Regions from separate parts of the Homo sapiens genome. Here regions 2, 3, 4 and 5 are each linked to region 1. Evidence: fine-mapped expression QTL. A gene starts in region 1. Each other region holds a variant in brackets. All regions are shown on one strand. Distances are between the middles of the regions.

Region 1 (4,114 bases):
GGAAGCCCACAGTCCACACGTAAGCCCACAGTCCACACAGAAGCCCACAGTCCAGTCCACACGGAAGCCCACAGTCCACACGGAAGCCCACAGTCCACACGGAAGCCCAGAGTCCACACGGAAGCCCACAGTCCAGTCCACATGGAAGCCCAGAGTCCACACGGAAGCCCACAGTCCACACGGAAGCCCACAGTCCACATGGAAGCCCACAGTCCAGTCCACACGGAAGCCCAGAGTCCACACGGAAGCCCACAGTACACACGGAAGCCCACAGTCCACACGGAAGTCCACAGTCAAGATCAACCTTCCAAGAACATGTATAGGACACTTACTTCTCTTGGAGGAGCTCGATCCAAAATACGGGGGCAGAGGCACAGCTCTGACTGACAGCTCCCTTGCTGTGGGACCACCACCTGGTCGTTTGGATATTGTTAGTTAGGACCTAAAGTAGTAAGGCCTTCCCAGGGCTGTCGGGAGAGAAGCAGGAGCTCCGTGCATGTTCTCTGCCACAGCGTGCCCTTAGGTTTCACAGGGGTGCCCTCAACTCACAGGAGAGGCAGGGAAACCTCGGGAATAGCAGGAATGCCAATGCCCTCCCCCCACCCTCAGCCTTGGAGAAGGAATGTGAATGTGCCAGGCGTCTTGTCTTCTCCAAGCACATATTGATCATATTGATCTACTCTGTGGGACTCTTAGGGAACCTCATCCAAACGCCAGCCTTTTGCCGGTAATGCTGTGAATGTAAACTGAGGGTCCTTCCTCGGCCCGGCTCACTTTCCTCTTCTGCTGCTCTTCTCGGGAACTGAGGTGGCGTTTTACCACGGACCTGCTCAAAGGCCCGATCCACTGAGAGGACTCTCAAGTCTACTACTCCAGGCTTGGCTTGGAATGAGAAAACCGTTTTGTGACTGGTTCTCCCACACTGTGAACAACAAAATCAACGGCAGCAGCAAGTATTTACATCCCTAGGGTGCCTGCATGGTTTCCCGGCCAGTCTCACTGACATCTCAATAAGCATCAGTACAACAACGTACTGCCAAGTTACCTGTGACACCCTTTCCACCGCAGCCCTGCCAGTCCCAATCAGCAGTGGATTTTCTTTGAACAACTGTAGAAACTGAGGCATGGTGCAATAACCTCAAAGAGTGAATTAGTAAGTTAATAAGCTGTTGTTTCCCAAAAACCTGGAGTTCCTTGCATAAGAAGTTATATCAATGAGTGATGTGTGATTCTTGATTAAGTTTTAAAGAGAAGACACCATCCAATCAATGCGCAGGTAGGTGGTGAGGCCTCAAGCCATAAAGATGACCTATTCTTCAAAAGGAAAACAAGCAGCAAAAAAGTCCAGCCGGTTACCCCACGGAGCCAGGAAGCACCCGGACGCCGCAGGCCTCCCGGGCTGTGCAGACAGCTCTCTGGTGCTATGTCCGTGGGATTCTCACCACAGCCGGCAATACACAGACTCAGCCTGGCTTCCCCAACCCACCCCACCACGGCTGCCGTGCCAACAAGCATCCGCTTTACATATGGGATGGAACACACACCCATGCTTTAAAGGAGAAACCTACTACTGGGAACGCAGGCCCAAGCCTCCTCCAAATGTGTGCATGAGCATGAACGTGAAAACGGATAAATGAAGCATCTTCCTCTGTGATCGTCCCTGCACCCCTCAGAGGACAGACCCCAAACTGTCAACTTTCCAGCCACATACGTGTGCGCACTAAATACAGAAGAGCACCAGGTGGAAAGAGCCTGTGCAGAGACAGCCAAACCGAAACCAACAAAGCCTCTGCAGCAGTCAGAAAATAAACACTCACATTCCAAAGCTCGCTGTCTGCTCCTCTCTCCCATCGCTCTGCTCGACTGTGAGAATCTTTCCCGGCTCGTCCAAGACTCAGTCCGGCTTTTGCGCAAATCAGCTCCGAGCTTCTATGACTCAGCAAAGAGCTCGGCTTTTATTTTTCAGATGGAATTTACCACGCTGTGACTACATCCAGGGGGAGGAACCATTTCCCCGAGCTGTTTCCAAGCAGAGCCCTTGAGCCAGGATCGCCCAAGCTCTCCCTGTGCACCTTAAGGCCAAGCACAGAGGCATCCTCTGAGCCCCCAGCCCAGCTCCCTGCAGGGCGCGAACAGACGCTTCTCGGTGGGGAAGGGGCCCGCAGCTCTGCACGGCCGGGCGGCCGAAGGCACAGCCACGCAGGTGAGATCCTGAAGGCAGCTTGGCTCTATTCAGATGCAGAGGCGGCCTGGGCTCCGGGTTGGCCCGGCGGCAGTCTCACGTGAAAACCAGCGAGCGGCAGAGGCCACGGCTGGGCCATCCCTGCCCTCACCGCCCCCTCGGCTTCCTGGCTGCTCCAGGACCGCGTTCTGGCCGGCTTTCCCTCCTGCTTGGAGAACCCCCTTCAAGATTGCAGAGTGAGCGGGTCAATAATAGGAACGAACTTCCACTCTGAGGGTATCTATTTTAAATGTCAGGTGATAGAAGGGATTTGCACACACTCAACACTGAGGACTGAAAATGCAGACGGGAACCAGACACAGGAGACCAGCAGCATTCCTGTGTGAAGGGCAAGCACGAGAGCTCACCTGGCCCGCCAATCCCACACGCAGTCCATAATCACCGTCCGGAAAAGCCGTGTGACAGCCGCTCTGTAGAAAACGCAGGGTCTGACAGGGTTTCCAAGCAGGAGGCCGCTTAGAGTCCATCTGGGTCCGATTCCATCAAGGCAGCCTTGAGGGCTGCCGGTGCGGGTGGCCTGAAGCTCCTGCCCTGCCCTGTCTCCGGCCACCAGGGCCTGCGCTGAGACTGCATCGGAGCCTGGACCCCAGAGCAGGCCTGCACGCCCAGGTTCTGGGGGTCAGCCTGGGAGGACCCTACATCCCCCCTGCTCCCAGCCCGCTCTGCCTCAGTTCCCTCGCCTGCACCCTGCCTGCCCCCCACAACCTGCCTCTTCTAGTCAAGGCCAAATGTCACTTCACCCCAAAGCTGAGACCGGCAGGCATCACCCCGAGAGGAGCCCACAGAGTGAACGCCGATGATAACATGTCAGAGGATGGCACAGGGCAGGCCAGGACTTCGGGTTACTTCTGCTGTCTGTCTAGATCTGGCCACCCTCATAAGTTAGAGCAAGCAAAAAATTGTCCTGATTAAAACCATGGCCACACGTCTGGCCAAACGTCCAGGGTGATGCAACAACCCTCCAAGGGTCACATGTCCTGACTCGTGTGACGGAGCCGCCCGCTGTCCCTGGTTACCAACCATCGCTGCCTCTATGTCACAGGGGAGGAGGCTGGAGCGCCAAGAGGCCATGCGGCTGCCCCACAATCACATCCCTGTCAGGTCCCGGAGCTGGATTCAGACCCGGAACGGTGGGTCGGAGATCCAGACCCCTCCCGTGTTGCCCTGAAGCAAAGAGGGTTCCCATGCCGGCGGCTCGGGGTCCACGCCCGACCCCGAGGGTGGCTCCTCCTCAGTCGGAGGCAGGCCACGGGGACAACCTTCCTGACGAGGGCAGTGCCCCCTCAGCCCAGCTGTCCTCCTGCTGGAATTGATCCTGGGGAAACAACACAAGGATGGTGTGTGCACAGATTTGACTTTAGTCCAAATACTTTATAGCACCTACCCCGTGCCAGGCGCTGTTGTAAGCCTTTAAATATAACTCACTCAGGGATGCTTACGGCAGTGTTGTCCATAATATAACAGGGAATAATTGGAAACATCCTAGACGTCCAACAGAGGAGTGATTTAACAAGCGATGGGAAACGCACATACGTCCAAATACAATGGGGCCATTTAAAAATGTCCCCAGTCCAAGCTTAACAGAAAGACGTAAACAACCTATTGTTTAAGTTTTTTAAAGTCAGCCATAAAAAAGCTGGTATCGTATGCTCACATTTCTGTTTAAAAAAGTGTGTATAGTATGATCACATTATTTGTTTTTAAAAACGCGTGCCTGTGTGTGTTGCACTCAAGAAAAACAAAGCCTGAAAGCGTAGATACCAAGCTCTAAAGTGGCCATAGCTCCAGGTGATAGGATCTCAGGTGACTTGATATTTTGTTTTGTATCTTTCTGAATTGTATGTATTTTTTTTGTAGAATTGGAAACAATAT
Region 2 (4,114 bases), 25 kb after region 1:
CAAAACACAGCCACATTCAGAAATAAACTATTACAAAGCTTCCCAACCAGGAAAAGCCTTTTGTGTTTTTGAGAGAGGATCTTGCTCTGTTGCCCAGGCTGGAGTGCAGTGGTGTGATCTCAGCTCACTGCAACCTCTGTCTCCTGGGCTCAAGTAGTCCTCCCACCTCAATCTCCCGAGTAGCTGGAACCTCAAGAACGTGCCACCATAACTCGCTAATTTTTGTTTTTTTTTTTTTGAGACATGGGGTCTTGCCATGATGCCCAGGCTGGTCTCGAACTCTTAGATTCAAGCAATCCACCCACCCTGGGCTCCCAAAGGAAAAGCCTTTTATAGGACCAGCCAAGTAAAGCTGATACAAAACAGCTCTTCAAGCACCTGGTTTTCTTAACTATTTCTAATACCCTAATGATCCAGGGTGAGTTACAATGGCAGAGAGCTCTAAAACCAGAGGAAAGGAACAGACGGGCTCTCCAAAGCTGCTCCAGGATGCTATGGCCTGGCTATCAGAGGACACAGGCTCCAGCCCTCTCCCCACGCAGTCCCTGGTTCCTGAGAGCCTGCACTCATCCCTGCAGCCAGGATGGGGAGGGAGGAACTCCAGGTGATCCAGGGTGGCCGCACCATGAAGAGGAGTGAAGATGAAAAGAGAAACACAGCAGGCGCCGTGGCTCACGCCTGGAATCCCAACATTTTGGGAGATCGAGGCAGGCAGATCATTTGAGCCCAGGAGTTCGAGACCAGCATGGACAAGAGAGAGACCCGTCTCTACAAAAATACAAAAATTAGCCAGGCGTGGTGGTGCAAACCTGTAGTCCCAGCTAATCAGGAGGTTGAAGTGTGAGGATCACTTGAGCCCAGTAGGTGGAGGCTGCAGTGAGCCATGATCATGCCACTGCACTCCAGCCTGGGTGACAGAGACCCTGTGAAAGGAGGAGGAGGAAAGAAGGAAGGAAGGAAGGAAGGAAGGAAGGAAGGAGCGAGCGAGCAAGTGAACTAGCGGGGCACGGTGGCTCACACCTAAAATCCCAGCACTTTGGGAAGCTGAGGCTGGCAGATCACTTGAGGTCAGGATTCAAGACTAGCCTGGCCAATGTGGTGAAACCCCCACTCTATTAAAAATACAAAAATTAGCCAGGTGTGGTGGCACATGCCTGTAATCCCAGCTATTCGGGAGGCTGAGGCACAAGAATCACCTGAACCTGGGAGGTGGAGGGTGCAGTGACCCGAGATGGCACCACTGTACTCCAGCCTGGGCAACAAGAGCAAAACTTTTTCTCAAAGAAAAAAAAAAGAAAAGAAAGAAAAAAGAAAGAAAAGAAAGGATAGAAAGAAAAGAAACACAAGCAGCCATGGAAGAGGCCTGAGGTGGGATCCCAGGCAGAGCAGGTGTCTGCTGGCACAGGCTGGCCACGCGACAGTTCAGGCCAGCTATAACGGACGATGAAATTCTCTTAGCAGCTCACATGCCCACCCAGCCTGGGCCACGGGGCCAGCGTGCTATGTTTCCAGCTTTCCTGACCGTGGTGCTCAATGATGCCACCAGCCGCAGGAAAGGAGTGGGGGTGTCGGCCTTGCTGGCCCAGCCCCAGCCAAGTCTCCCATACTCCCAACACCAGAAGATGCACCTCCTAGGGCGTGGGGACACGCGGCAGAGGGGCCACACTGGCTCCTGGTGTTTACCGCTGTGCCCGTCCGGGGCAGCAGCTCCCAGAACACAGCCCATGCTGCCGGGATCCTGCATACAGCCGCCCTCATCCTCTCACCTCCTCTCAGGGTTCCCC[A/G]CCCTGGCTGTTCCCACTGGCACCTACCACCCACTCCAGCCCACCCGGACCCAGCCAGCTCTCCACTCCCTGAAACATATGCACTCCAGTTTGTCTGATCCACAGGAAAGCCTTAAAATAAACAGGTGATGAATGTTTATAGAAAATGTGGTGTCAATTAGCTGGACATGGTGGCACACACTTGTAGTCCCAGCTACTTGGGAGGCTGAGGCATGAGAGTCGCTTGACCCCAGGAGGCAGAGGTTGCAGTGAGCTGAGATCACACCACTGTACTCCATCCAGCCTGGGTGGCAGCAAGACTCCATCTCAAAAAGAAAGAAAATGTGGTGTGCACATCTGACGAATGCCGCTCAGCCGCGAGACACAGGTGCTTCTGCCATTTGCAGCCTGGATGGACCTTGAGGACACCATGCTAAGTGAAATAAGCCAGGCACAGAAAATCGAGTACTGCATGATTCCAGTTCTATGAGGTGTTGAAAATAGTCAAATCACAACAATAAAGACTGGAAGGGAGGCTTCCAGGGCTAGGAAGTGGGAGCTCTCAACAGAGAAAAGTTTCTGTTAATGTTAAGTGAGAGGAATAACCTCCAGAAATCTGCTATTCTGCGCTGAACCTGCACCAACCACCAAGGGTCATTGACACTTTAAGTGTCGTACACTTAAAATTTAAGAGGATTTATTTCATGTTAAGTGTTCTTATCTACCACGATAAAAAAAAAATGAAAATGAAAAAAAAAAAAAGCTCATCGGGAGTGGTTCACAATTGTAAAGGATTAAAATCAACCCAAAATACTTTATAAGGAACTGATTAAAGAAACAATTGAATAGTAAAAAAATGCTCATGAATATGACATTTTTAAAAAGCAGGATATAAAATGATTATAGCATGATCCAAACTCTGTGTGTGGCTGGGGGAGTCTGCAAACCCATCAGCGGTCAGGAGGTCAGCAGGCAGCCAGCAGATGTATAGATACGGAGCGAGGGGAGGGCCCTGTCTCGGTCAGCTCATCCCCATCACAATATGCCACAGACCAGGCAGCCTAAACAAGACATTTCTCGCAGTTCTGGAGCTGGAAGTCTGAGGCCAAGGAGCCGGCCGGTTTGGTTCCTGGTGAGGGTCCTTCCTGGCTTACAGAGCTGCCTCTGTGCCCTGTGGAGAGAGCCCGATCCCATGTCCCTTCTTGTAAGGGCACCCATCCCATCCTGGGGGCCCACCCTATAACCTCATCTCACCCCGTCAGCTCCCAAAGGGCCCACCCCCCCAATACCATTACATTGGGGGTCAGAGCGCAACCTGTGAACTTGGGGGACACAATTTGGTCCACAGCAGCACCTAATGACTTACAGCAGTCACCTGGGCACGTGTTAGTTATGAGTACTGATTGTCTTCATCCCAGCCTTCTGAAATTTTAGAATTTTTATAAACAAAACAAAGAAGCACGAGCTTGTGAAGGAACCCAAGTGCTTAGTGTCATGGCAAAGACTTGGGGAGCAGTGAGACCTCCACACACAGCGTGACTTGCAGAGGCGCCCCAGCACGTGAGGCGTGGAGGTGGGGGCAACCCAGAGAGGCTGTAAGAGCCAAGTCAATACAGCGGCTGGAGGCCGAGAGAGGAGGCCAGAAATGAAGCTTCCCCCATCTTCAAGACCTTTGCTGGATGCCGCTGTAGGGAATCGGGGGCCAGCCAGATTTTCAGACCTCACTGGTCTGACAGCCCAGCGCTATGGAGGGAGTGGGGGTCGCCTCTCTGGAGTGCACAGATGTGCTGCTGTACTAAGAGACCTCTGCCAGGGAAGCCAGTGAGCCACAGGCAGGTGACATGCAGCAGGAAGTCCTGGCACGTGTAGAGGGCCAGGCCTCTCAGCCTTGCAGGGACCACGCTGTCCAGGGGCCATGGGAGAAAGGGTCTAGCCCTTGGCCTTACTGGGAAACGGTGGGTGGCCTGACTGAGACTGTTCTGCTTGGGGGTTGCAGGTATGGGGGGATGTCAAAACCGGAGGGGGCAAGGCAGGGCAGACGGGGGCCTGGTGTGGGATCCGGGCCCAAGCTGAGGTGACTAAGTTCCTGAATCACAGCTAAGAGACATAGGTCCTGGCTGGGCACGGTGGCTCATGCCCATAATCCCAGCAGTCTGGGAGACCAAGGCAGGAGGATCACTTGAGATCAGGAGTTCAAGACCAGCTTGGGCAATATACCAAGATCTTGTCTCTATTAAAAAAATGTTTAAATATTTTTAAAAATGAGACAGAGGTTCGAATGCTGAGTTTGCAACTCCACACTCCTTAGTTCTGGTGATTTTAGGCGATGTCTGTACCTCCTCCCTTGCTGA
Region 3 (4,114 bases), 180 kb after region 1:
TAGTCTTAGCTACCCAGGAGGCTGAGGCGGGAGGATTGCTTGAGCCTCTTAGCTACCCAGGAGGCTGAGGTGGGAGGATTGCTTGAGCCTCTTAGCTACCCAGGAGGCTGAGGTGGGAGGATTGCTTGAGCCTGGGAGGTCAAAGCTGCAGTGAGCCATGACTGCATTACTGTGCTCCAGCCTGGATGACAGAATGAAACCCTGTCTCAAAAAAAAAAAATCATTTTACTGTCCTAAAAATAGCCTGTGCTCCACCCATTCGTCCCTCCCTGCCCCCAACAACCCCTGGCAACCATTGCTCTTTGTATTGTCTTTATAGTTTTGCCTGGAATGTCATGTAGTTGGCTTCATATAGCCTGTGGCCATTCCAGATTGGCTTCTTTTAATTAGTAATAGACGTTGAAGACTCCTCCAGGTCTTTTCACAGCTTGATGACTCATTGTTTCTATTGTTGAATAGTATCCCACTGTATGACGCACCACGGTTTTTTGATCCATTCACCTTTTGGAGGACACCTTCGTAATTTCGACTTTTGGCAATTGTAAGTGAAGTTGCTATAAACATTCATTTCAGGTTTTTGCATGGACATGTTTCCAACTCATCTGGAATAATTCCTAGGGGTGTGGGTGCTGGATCCTATGGTAAGAGTGTGTTTAGCATTGTAAGAAACTGACAAACTGTCTTTCAAATTGGCTGCACTATTTTACATCCCCACCAGCAATTAATGAGAGTTCCTGTTGCTCTTCATCCTTACTAACATTTGATATTGTCAAATTTAAAGTTTAGCCATTCTAATAGGCATGCAGTGGTATCTCATTGTTGTTTTATTTTATTTTATTTTTTTGAGACAGAGTATTGCTCTGTTTCCCAGGTTGGAGTGCAGTGGCATGATCTTGGCCCACTGCAACCTCCACCTCCGGGGTTCAAGTGATTCTCCTGCCTCAGCCTCCCAAGTAGCTGGGATTACAGGTGGGAGGCCACCACGCACAGCTAATTTTTGTATTTTTAGTGGAGATGGAGTTACACCATGTTGGCCAGGCTGATCTCGAACTCCTGGCCTCAAGTGATCCACCCGCCTTGGCTTCCCAAAGTGCTGGGATTACAGGTGTGAGCCACAGCACCCGGCCTGTTGTTTTGATTTTCAATTACTTAATTATGTATGATGCTGAGTATCTTTTCATATGTTTATTTGCCATGTGTATATCTTCATTTGTGAGGTTCAGATCTGTTGCCCATTTCAAAATTGGGTTGTTTGTGTTCTTACGGTTACATTTTAAGAGTTCTTTGTATATTTTGGATACAATCTTTTATAAGGTATGTGTTTTGCCAGTTCTTTTCCAGTATGTGGCTTATCTTTTCATTCTCTTAACAATGTCTTTCATGGAGCAGAAATATTTAATTTTAATGAAGTCCAACTTATCATATTTTTCTTTTATGGCTTATGCCTTTGGTGTTGTATCTAAAAACTCGTCTCCAAATCAAAAGTCACTAAAATATTCTTCTATGTAATCTTGGGGGAGTTTTATTGTTTTGCATTTCACATACAGGTCTATGATCTATTTTACACTTATTATAGCTGAAAGGCCAAGAAGCAGTCAGGTCTATGATCCATTTTATTTATTTATTTATTTTTGAGACAGAGTCTGGCCCTGTTGCCCAGGCTGGAGAGCAGTGGCATGATCTTGGCTCACTGCAACCTCTGCCACCCAGGCTCAAGCGATTC[A/G]TGTGTCTCAGCCTCCCGAATAGCTGGGATTACAGGTGTGTGCCACCACACCCGGCTAATTTTTGTCTTGTTAGTAGAGATGGGTCTCACCATGTTGCCCAGGCTGGGCTTAAACTCCTGCCCTCAAGAGATCTGCCCACCTCGGCCTTCCAAAGTACTGGGATTACAGGCGTGAGCCATGACGCCCAGCCTAAGAGGTTTTGTTTTTGTTTTTTTTTTTGTTTTAGAAATAATTCACAGGTGGGGATAACTTCATTTCAAAAATAAAAATATCAGCTTTATGATATTCCAAAACATGGTTTTGTTCTCTAGATTATACAAATCAGGCAGCTCTAAGGCAGTTCTGAGCCTAAATATCAGCAGAAGGCACAGAACGGAAGGCATAGACTCTGTTCGAAGTGTCTGGTAATTTCCCTTCACTGGGAGCCTATTTGAATTCAAATTATGCACAATAAGTGTCAAGTCTTCCCCCATTTATCTGAGTAACTTAAAAATCCTGTGCAGTGAAACAAGATCTCTGTACATCAAAGTCCCCTTAACCATGTGAATCTTCTCACGTTCTCATGGGAGGAAGTGCCAAGTTGACTGATAAGATGACTTTCTGCTTGCTCCAGAAAGAAAGGCTCCTCCACTCCCAGAAGACGCAGCGTGGGCCTTTGTCTCTTCCCTTCTCCCGCCACCGGCTCGGATCCGCCTTCTCCCTGGGAAACCATCATGGCACTCAGCACTTTGCTGTCTGCCGAGTGGGTCACCTCCTGAGACGTGCCACTGACAGGGCAGTACACCATTAAGAGGGGTGACTCATTCTCAGGGGTCCGGTACTGAGTCTTCTGTCAATACATTCAAACAAAAGGCGTTATAAAACCAACTGAAAACAAGAAATTCTAGAATGTGCCCTTTCCAACTTGACCCACGCATGCTGGTTCAGGGAGCACTTCAAGTCCTCTGAGCTCTAAAAATAAGCCTCAGTGAGTGTCCATGAGCCTGGGGGTGTAAGACCAAGACCCTGGCTCCTTGGGATCACGGTGGATGGGAGTATAACTGGAGATGCATTGGCCCCAGGCGGCCCACCAGAAGCAGGGTGGACAGATAGCTGGGTGGAGCTGGGGCAGGGCCACCACCCTCCTGGCCAGGCTGGGGCTGGGCACTGGGAATCTAAGTCATGGTATTCCCAGCCCAGCTTTAATTCGAGGACCCCGCGTGCATTTCCAGCCTCTCCGGGTTTGTTTGCTCATCCTTGATAAGTCACAGTTCTTGCTCTGCTGACCTACCTGCCATAAAGAGTTATGAGGCCAAAAGAAAATAAATGAAAGCTCTCTGAACACTGGTGACGTGCTTCCTACCTGTGAAATGCTCTTACTGTGAATCTTTGCAGAGCTGGGAAATCATTTTCTGGGCCCAGCTCTTACTGTCGAAGTACAAACAACCTGAGAAACACTGCAGACCCGCAATCCTGCCAGCTGAGCCCAGGCCTGCAGATACACACCCTGCAGAGCGCAACCCTCCGGCCCTGGGCGCCTCCCAGCCAGGGCGCGGCTGCCCTCTGCTGCCTCCTGCTGGCCGAGTGTGAGCAGCCCCTCAGCGCAGACTTTCCTTCCAGTCTGGCAGGTTTAGCCCCAGCGGGAGGCGGCATCACCCCAGTTCCTACAAACGACCTCGGGAATGGAAAGCGCACCCGGGCCGAGGCCCGCGCTCCTGCCCGTGCTGACCATGTGGACACCCAGGGACTTGGGGCAGGGCGCGGAGGCTGCCTGGATGTGTGGCGCAGGCGCCTGCGTGGAAACACCAAGTCCAGAAACCCTGGCTCTGGCGTGGGCCGCAGCAGGTGTCTGTGTCCCCCCCAGCAGGTGTCCGTCCCTCCCCAGCAGGTGTCTGTCCCTCCTCAGCAGGTGTCTGTCCCTCCCCAGCAGGTGTCTGTGTCCCCCCAGCAGGTGTCCGTCCCTCCCCAGCAGGTGTCCGTCCCTCCCCAGCAGGTGTCCATCCCTCCCCAGCAGGTGTCTGTCCCTCCCCAGCAGGTGTCTGTCCCTCCCCAGCAGGTGTCTGTGTTCCCCCAGCAGGTGTCCGTCCCTCCCCAGCAGGTGTCTGTCCCTCTCCAGCAGGTGTCTGTCCCTCCCCAGCAGGTGTCTGTGTCCCCCCAGCAGGTGTCCGTCCCTCCCCAGCAGGTGTCTGTCCCTCCCCAGCAGGTGTCTGTCCCTCTCCAGCAGGTGTCTGTGTCCCCCCCAGCAGGTGTCCGTCCCTCCCTAGCAGGTGTCTGTCCCTCCCCAGCAGGTGTCTGTCCCTCTCCAGCAGGTGTCTGTCCCTCCCCAGCAGGTATCTGTGTCCCCCCAGCAGGTGTCCGTCCCTCCCCAGCAGGTGTCTGTCCCTCCCCAGCAGGTGTCTGTCCCTCTCCAG
Region 4 (4,114 bases), 140 kb before region 1:
GCCATGGGGGCCTCCCCTGCCATCTTCCGGGAGCAGGCTCTTCTCCACTTAGACCCACCAGGGCCCTGGGCAAGCAGCGGCCCCGCTCTGTCTTCCTGACCCCTCGGGAGGCCGGGCCAGGTTGACCAGGGGTGCGTTCTGGGCCTAGAACTCAGCGCCCACCTGCCTACCTGCACAACACCCTTGCGGGTGCCGCCCTACCCTGTTGCGAGCTTTGATCCTCTTGTAGACAAAGTCCGGGAATGTTTTCCGAGGGACGAAGCGGCCCGCCCCCGGGGTGACAAACATCTTCCCGTCCTCCAGCGCCACTCGGCCCTGACTTATGACCACGGCAGGCGCTCCCCGGCACTCCACTCCCTCGAAGATGTTGTACTCCACGTTCTGGGGAGAGAGGCCCGAGGGTCCAGTGCCTCCACGCTGGGGCCCAACAGTCCCATCCCCGTTGAGCCGCTGGAGCACTGTGGCCGCCCAGCGTGGAGCAGGCCCGGTGTGCCTACACTGAGCCCCTAGCAAGATGCTGGAACTGAGGGGTTGGAACTCGGGAGGAATGCCCCCCCTCGGCCTACGGACCTCGTTTCTGAGTCCCGTTTCTCTCGAGGACAAAGGGGACAGGCGTGGGCAGGCAGGGAGGGTCACTTCTCCCTTGGCTAGGCAGGTGCACACGGCACCGCTCTGCCCCAGCCTCCTCCATGGCACAAGGGGACCACAGATGCAGCGGCCACGCAGCGAGGTGACGTGGACAGGGCCCATTTCAGTGTCTGGCCTGGGACAGGCTGTGTGGACGGCCCTGGGATGGCTGAGGCCACTGCTGCTGCCACGTGGGCCTCTGTCCTGCGCCTCTCCTGGGAAGGCTGCCCTGGGGTCCCGGCCCCACAAAGGCCAACCCTGACTTACAGCCGCCTTCTCTTACCAGATTGTGGGTCTTGGCAGAGATGATCTTGGTGGCCTTGGGGTTCCATATGACCAGGTCAGCGTCAGAGCCCACAGCCACTCGCCCCTTCCTTGGGTAAAAATTGAAGATTTTGGCAGCATTTGTACTGGTCACCGCGACGAACTCATTCTCGTCCATCTTCCCAGAGGCCTGGGGAACAAGAAGGCTGAGCTGAGGGCGACGGGTGGGGTTGGGGTGAGGCTTGCGCGAGGACAGACACTGGGCCACCAGGACCCCACAAGGATGGATGCCAGGTCACCAGGCCCCCGTGAGGACAGACGCTGGACCACCAGGCCCCCCACAAGGTTGGACGGCAGGACACGGGGCCCCTGCCAGGTCAGATGCTGGACCGCTGGGACCCCACAAAGACGGATACCAGGCCCCCGTGAAGACGGGCACTAGAGTGCCACCCAGGCAGCCAAGATCAGGACAGGGCTCCAGCCACGGCCCTCGCCATGGCAACACTCAGGGTAAGAACGCCTGAGTAACCCCTGGGGTAAGAACGCTGCACTGGTGAGTCAGGGAGCCCATCTCAGTGATGCCTGCTGGTCTGCCCCTTCCTGGGCGAAGCCTTTCTGCATTCACTTTGTGGGTAAAGCTTCCACGAAGGTTCAGCGAGAGTGGAGCTTCAGTGGCAACACCTGTGTCCCCTGAAGGACGTGACAGTCTCCTTGGGGAGCCCTGGAGGCTGGGAAGGCAGGAGCAGCTGAGGGGAAGAGCTCAGTTGCCCGGGGAGGTGGGGCTGAGGATGCGGGAGGGCGCAGGACAGGGCGGTGTGCGACG[G/A]GTCGTGAGGGCATCGCGGGGGAGCACTAACATCACAGCGTGGAGACCCCATGCTGACCCCTGGGCAAACACAGTGTCCGGGCAACACTAGAGTCTGCTGAGGGGTGGGGGGCTACCAGCTGCCCCTGTTGCTGTTGGAGTCTCATCTGGAGGGGCCAGAACCACGTGTCTGAGGCGCCCTGGGTGGGGAATCCGCCACCCCGGAGCCCGTGTGCTCTGATCTGTTTCACGAGTGTGCACTGGTTAGATGGGCTCCCTTCTGACCAGCCATCACAATCCCGCCCACAGCCGCTCCCCAGACGGCGTGCCCCGGCCAGGCCTGTGCTCACCACACATTTCTCCCAGACCATCGACATGCGCTCCTCAATGCCGTTGGTGCCCTCGGGGATCAGCGCGAAGTTGTCCTTGCCCACAGCCTTCTGGGCAGTGGTGAAGGTGCAGTGGGCGCTGCCTGTCACCTGGAGGTCCCCGCTGGAAACAAGCCAGGGTCAGAGGGTCCTGGCCTTCCTGAGCCGGCAGAGGCCAGGTCAGCTCCAGCCCCCTTGGCCAGCACAGCCGCAGGGGCTAGAGGTCATCTGAGTGGCTCTCGCTGGGCAGAGCTGGTGCCTCTGTGCAGGGGAGCGGGGACTGGTTCCTGCCAGGGGAGCCCCCGCTGGGACCAAAGGGCTCAGACTTCCCCACCCGCCACTGTCCGGGCTGCCCTATGGGAGCCGTGGGAGAGGCCTGGGGTGTCGGGGCCACAGCCTTGGCAGGGTGTGCAGCGGGCGGCCAACCTGGGGCCACCTGGAGAGGCTGCTTACCTGGACAGCAAGCAGGTGAGGTGGTCCGCCGTGGTGGGGTCTGGGTTGACAGGGGGTGATGTGACGAAGGCTGCGGCCTTGGCCCAGTTCTTGCTCCAGTAGTGTGAACCGTCGGTGCCCAGGCTGGCGGTGATGGGCTCCCCAAACACGACCACCCCTGCAGCACGAGGCCCATGAGAGGTGCCCCACCGACCACCTGCACCCCCTGGGGCCCCGAGAACTGCTGCTGCTGACACCCACGACTGCCCCTCACTTTCCTTGCCTGGGACAGCTTGTGCCCAGTCTAGAGTCCCTGGCCCTGGGCAGGAAGTGGGGCAGAGGCCTGGGTCGCGGGCAGACGTGGTTGGCCCTGGGGGTCCTTCTGGGAAAGGGAGTCTGGCCTGCGGACGCCAAGTCCTCTCTCTGCCCACACCCCACCCCAGGACCCCGGGCACTCCAGCGGGGCCAGGGCGTGCCTGTGGGCTGCGAGGCACAGTGAACTGCATGGCGGCTGACTGGCCGGGGGTGCCCTGGCCATGGCCTCACCAGGGTTCCAGCTCACAGCTGAGGCAGCTCCCACCAGTGGGTGGGGGAGAAATGCTCCCAGGTGGGGTGGGGCACCCCCCGAGAAGAGCCTGGCGGGTGGGGTACCCCTGAGAAGGGCCTGGCCTGCTGCCCCGAGGCTGCTTGGTGTCCTGAGTGAGGCCCGGGCCTCACCCCTGCAGACCCCCATTCACCTGCACGCCTCAGAGTCCTTTTCCCAGTTAACTGAGTGGGTTTCAGTTTCAACCCTCGATGCAGGAAACACATAGAAGGGCACCACCCACCACCACCACCACCCCGCCCCCCACCCTGCCCAGGGACCTGCACAGCCCCAGGCAGGCCCAGAAAACGAGGTCTCTCAGGACTCAGTGCGGACAGCAGGAGGAGGGGAAACCAGACCAGATCCAGAGGCCGCCTAGGGGATGCCCCCTCATTTACCCGTCACCTGGGTTCTGTGCCTGGATCCTTGGCCCTCTCCAGCCCCAGTGATTGCTGGGGCTCCATGGACCCTCTGAGCCCAGTAGCCTCTGGGGGACACCACAGTCAAGCCGCTGCCAATCACAGCTCTGGGTGGCACCCCCCCGCCCAGGCCTGAGGCTCTCTGCAGTGCCAGGCTCCAGCTGGCTGGCATTCTGTGGGCAGGTAGCACCCCGGCTCTGGACACAGCAAATAGCAATGTAGGGAGGGCCTCCTTGTTGGAACTGGAATTCTCTCTTGGAGACCCTCCTCATCATTCCATTCTCCCCACACCCACCCCCACTGGAAATGGGATGAGCGTCCCCATGTTTTGCCTCAGGGCCCCTGGTGAGCAGCTGCTGCTCCAGCAAGGCTGGAAACTCAGGTCCAGCCCCTGCCCCGATGCAGGGACTCAGGGTCCAGTGCCCCACCCCGATGCAGGGACTCAGGGTCCAGTGCCCCGCCCCGATGCAGGGACTCAGGGAACCTGCATCTCCCCAGGGCTGCACCCAGGAGGCCGAGACCATGGCCCCTCGGCATCAGAGGCGGGGCTGGGTGCTCACCTCTGCGCTTGGCCTGAGCGATGGCGTCGGCCGCCCCCTTGCTCATCACCTTGGTGACG
Region 5 (4,114 bases), 140 kb before region 1:
TCCCAGCTACTTGGGAGGCTGAGGCAGCAGAATCACTTGAACCTGGGAGGCGGAGTTGGCAGTGAGCCAAGATCACGCCACTGCACTCTAGTCTGGGTGACAGAGCGAGACCAAAAATAGGATCCATGGATAGCAGGCAAGAGTGTCCAGGTGTTCGAGGCACAGACGACACTGTGACAGGGAAGAGTCCCCTTAGCCCTGGCTGGGGCCGTGAAAGCATGCTGTTGTCCGTCTCGGGTGAACGCAGACTGTTGTCACGCATTGCATAACGATGCTTCCGTCACTGGCCAATCGCATGGGGGGGTGGTCCCGTAAGATGGTAACACTGGGTTTTGCTGTACGTTTTGTATGTCTAGATAGGGTTGAGCGTTCTGGTGTGTACCCACTCACACGTCCCCTCCGACCTTCAGAGCCCAGCTCCCTCCCTCCCAGGGCCTTGGCTGTGACGTGGGTGACTTCCTATGGATCTGAGGTTCTGTGGTCCTCACAAGTGGGCATCCTCTGGCCTCAGCTGCAGGAGGTGGGGGCCCTTTTAATGCCACCCGAGGCCTGCGACTCCCTGCACTTTTCACTGTGACTTGGCTCATCTGGGTCTGTCATTTGCTCACGCGTTGGTAGTGACCAACGTCACCATCCAAGTTCACGGTCACCATAATGATGCTTTCCCCACACCATGCCAGCGCTGAGCGGCCAGCACCCCCTCCACCCCACCCACGCCCTCCCCCGACCCCTGCGTCCTGGGAAGTGGTCCTGCTGCCTGAAGGAAGTAGTCCTGCCTGCCCATCACACACCAGTAAGGGTGGGTCCTGCCAGGGGCAGCCTCCGTCCACAAGCTTGCCCTGAGGACCTGCTTCTAAGACAGCCCTGGTTCCAGGATTCTCTGGGCAGGGCCCCAGAAGCAGGCCTGGGACAGGTGTGTGTGTGCTGTGATGAGGGGCTGGGAGAACCCGGTATGAGACGGGAAAGGCCCGGCAAGGGAGTGGTTTCCAGCAAAGTCCCGCAGAGAACAGCTTCTGCCTGGTCCTGCAGGCCCCACGGAGCAAGTCCAAGCCATCCACCCAGAGGCAAGGGAGCTGGGCCTTGGCATCCTCGGGCTTGGGTGAGTCACCCGCAGAGATGCGAGCTCCCGGGCAGTCTGGCTGCTGGAGGGCCGGGGCACTTCAATAGCCCAGAGGCCGTCATCCAAAGCCACAGGTGGAGGCCCGATGGGGATGCCCAGACACTCACTTGAGGGGACATGGGCGGAACCTGGACAGCGTCCCCCACGCTCACGTGTGCCTTTCCATCCACAGGAGAATGACTATCTTCAAGACTGCCTCGATGCCATCCAGCAAGACTTCGTGATTTTTAACAGAGAAAAGTGAGTGTGTTGGGGGTGGGTGGGCGTGGTGGCAGAGAGGAGGAAAATGGGGCTAAGGTTAAGGTTTTCTTGGCCACGTGAGCGGGCACCTGTGGGCCTGGGGTGCGTGGCCCTGCTCTCTTTGGGGACTCTGAGCAGCAGCTATGGAGGGGAGCGGCGGGAGGCCCCTGCCAGGCTCTGGCATGTTTGTGCTCCACGCGGGGCCCGTGGCTGGAATCTTCTGGGGAGAGACACATCATTTGCCCAGATGAGGGGTGGTGACTTCCTAGGAGGCCCCATCAGAGCCACGTCAACTCCCCCACCCAGGCACGCCCTCAGTCTCTCAGCAGACCTTTCCTGAATGTCAGGCCCCAGGGGACAGAAAGGGCACAGATGACTGGCAGCAGGCAAGGCAGGCCAGAAATAGCAGCAGCTGCCACGGTGGGGCCCAAGGGAGGATGGATGCTCCCTCTGCCCGCACGGGGCAAGGAGGGCCTCCTGGAGGAGGTGGGTCTGAGCTCTTATGGACAGGACGTGCAGGGCAGCACGTGCAGACGGCTGAGGGCACTGACTGGCACCCTGGGGATCAGATGACCGGGTGAAGAATGAGGCTTAGCCGAGCCTCATTCCCAAGTCACTGACCTATGGCACCTGCACAGTCAGGCCTTTCGGCTTCTGGCTGGAAACACGCCGAGCCTCGCCAGCATGCTCACGTGCCCCCACCCGTCCCCAGGCTCCCTGCCAGTGTATCGGGAGCATGGCCTCTCCAGCAGACACCGAGCCTGTGGCCCACGTTTGGGCATCCACGCCATGGCCTA[C/T]CCCATGAGCCCGTGGGCAGGTCATGGGACCGTGAGGCCAGGGAGGTGGGGGCATAACGCCCTCCATGTGTTCCTGCCACCCCAGGCTGAAGAGGAGCCAGGACCTCCCGAGGGAGCCTCTCCCCGCCCCTGAGTCCAGGGATGCTGCGGAGCCTGTGGAGGACGAGGCGGAACGCTCCGCCCTGCCCATGTGCGGCCCCATTTGCCCCTCGGCCGGGAGCGGCTAGGCCGGGACGCCCGTGGTCCTCACCCCTTGAGCTGCTTTGGAGACTCGGCTGCCAGAGGGAGGGCCATGGGCCGAGGCCTGGCATTCACGTTCCCACCCAGCCTGGCTGGCGGTGCCCACAGTGCCCCGGACACATTTCACACCTCAGGCTCGTGGTGGTGCAGGGGACAAGAGGCTGTGGGTGCAGGGGACACCTGTGGAGGGCATTTCCCGTGGGCCCCCGAGACCCGCCTAGATGGAGGAAGCGCTGCTGGGCGCCCTCTTACCGCTCACGGGGAGCTGGGGCCATGGATGGGACAGGAGTCTTTGTCCCTGCTCAGCCCGGAGGCTGTGCACGGCCCTCGTCACAAGGTGACCCTTGCAGCACAGGCCGCGGGTGCCCCAGGCTCGGCTCAGGTCTTGGAGGTCAAGGGCATGGGTTGGGGTAGTGGGTGGGGAGGTGAATGTTTTCTAGAGATTCAAACTGCTCCAGCAATTTCTGTAGTTTTCACCTCTGAGAATTACAATGTGAGAACCGCTCGATGTTGCATGTTCTGCGTACGTCCTGTGTCTGCCTGGCCGTCAGGCCGGTGCCTGCCGTTTCTGGTTGGCCTGGACTTGGGGCAGCCAGTGGGGTGGGCAGCTCCTCAGGGCAGAGCTCCCGGACCATGGCTTTGGGGTGGGTGCCTGTCTCCGTGGCCCTGGAGCCGTAAGGCTGTGGAAGGCAGAGACGGTCCTGGAGGCAGAGGAGCCCAGGACAGCACCGTGCACCGTGGAGCCACCGCAGTGCCGGGCAGTGCTTGGCCCTCCATAAAGGGACGTATCCCTCTCACTGTGGCTGGGTGGTTCTGTGGTTGGAACTGTAACTAACTGGGTAAACGGCCTGTGTGCTTCTCTCTGGTCTCGCTGGAGGAGGACGGGCTCAGCCCATCAGCCCAGCGCTCCAGACAGGCCTGTGCTGGTTTCCTCTGAGGAAATGGGTGTGGCGGGTCTGTGCCCCTTCCCAGGACAGCGGCCATAGTGGACATGTGCCTAGACCTGTGTCCATGAGCCCCACTGCACCCCTGGCAAACAGGGCCCTCCCGTCCTTGGCTGGGCTGCGAGATGGAGATGACAACGGCCAAAGAACATTTGGGGAAGAACCGGCCATGCCACGAGCAGAGTCAGAAGTCCGAGGGGATAGAATGCAGCTTCCCGTCCCCCACCCACCCCTGTCCTCTGAATCATGGCAGAAACTAGCCTTCCAGCCCTCAGCAGCTCACATGGGGGACACGGCACCCAAATCACCACCAGGAAGGGTGGCCCGGTCTCTGCGAGGGCCCAGAGGCGCCGTGTACTCGGTGGAAGTCTGGCGATGTCAGAGACAGGCTCGGGGCAAGGACAGGTGTGGGGGTTTGAATAAGTGCATTTGGGGAACATGGCAGGGTGGTGCACCTTGTCCTCCTTCGAGACACTGGTGAGGTGTGGGTGCTGTCTGGTTCCCTTGATCGCCCCCCACACTGGGGCAGAGTGGGAGATGCTGGTGTGGGGGACATCAGCTCCCACATCTGGGCCAGAGGGAGCCCCGGGAAGGAAATGCTGAGGGCCCAGGGCCTTCGCCTGGGATCTGCACAGCTTTATAAGCAGCCCAGGGTGAGAGATGGGCCTGTCTGTGGTTCCCAGAGACCACGGCAGGAAATTCTCTGTCACCATCGGTGCATGGGCAGGGGCCAGAGAACCGGTGGCACAAGGTGTCCCTGGCTCTCTGCTCAA

Which allele goes with the higher level. Positions count from the first base shown, and alleles are read on the strand shown. Sizes are in standard deviations (SD) of each study's normalised expression. Not every link is listed here.
As copies of A replace G in region 3, the expression in breast of the gene that starts at base 1,933 in region 1 goes down (small effect, 0.24 SD a copy in GTEx).

The links. PIP is the estimated chance that this variant, and not a neighbour inherited with it, causes the effect. A credible set is the group of variants that fine-mapping cannot tell apart.
Region 2: its variant is the best candidate, but not a certain one, in a credible set for the expression of JAKMIP3 in sun-exposed skin (GTEx, PIP 0.83).
Region 3: its variant is the best candidate, but not a certain one, in a credible set for the expression of JAKMIP3 in breast (GTEx, PIP 0.81).
Region 4: its variant is the best candidate, but not a certain one, in a credible set for the expression of JAKMIP3 in blood mononuclear cells (TOPMed, PIP 0.77).
Region 5: its variant is the best candidate, but not a certain one, in a credible set for the expression of JAKMIP3 in whole blood (TOPMed, PIP 0.66).

Annotation. Positions count from the first base shown.
Region 1 is chr10:132,063,765-132,067,878 of GRCh38, reverse strand. It overlaps JAKMIP3 (Janus kinase and microtubule interacting protein 3), which reads right to left and starts at 1,933. Exons shown (of 24, transcript NM_001323087.2): 1 at 1,818-1,933. RefSeq lists enhancers at 1-134, 2,409-3,156.
Region 2 is chr10:132,039,050-132,043,163 of GRCh38, reverse strand. It overlaps a transcript of JAKMIP3 not described here. Among named protein-coding and RNA genes, the nearest start is that of JAKMIP3, 25 kb to the left of the region's middle. RefSeq lists an enhancer at 3,241-4,078. The variant A/G (reference allele first, on the strand shown) is at 1,785.
Region 3 is chr10:131,884,696-131,888,809 of GRCh38, reverse strand. No RefSeq gene overlaps it. Among named protein-coding and RNA genes, the nearest start is that of PPP2R2D, 14 kb to the left of the region's middle. The variant A/G (reference allele first, on the strand shown) is at 1,724.
Region 4 is chr10:132,198,913-132,203,026 of GRCh38, reverse strand. It overlaps DPYSL4 (dihydropyrimidinase like 4), which reads right to left. Exons shown (of 14, transcript NM_006426.3): 8 at 4,056-4,114; 9 at 2,515-2,671; 10 at 2,044-2,185; 11 at 911-1,081; 12 at 202-381. Among named protein-coding and RNA genes, the nearest start is that of DPYSL4, 14 kb to the right of the region's middle. The variant G/A (reference allele first, on the strand shown) is at 1,715.
Region 5 is chr10:132,206,280-132,210,393 of GRCh38, reverse strand. STK32C (serine/threonine kinase 32C) reads left to right here. Exons shown (of 12, transcript NM_173575.4): 11 at 1,293-1,360; 12 at 2,243-2,902. The coding sequence ends at 2,384. Among named protein-coding and RNA genes, the nearest start is that of DPYSL4, 21 kb to the right of the region's middle. The variant C/T (reference allele first, on the strand shown) is at 2,158.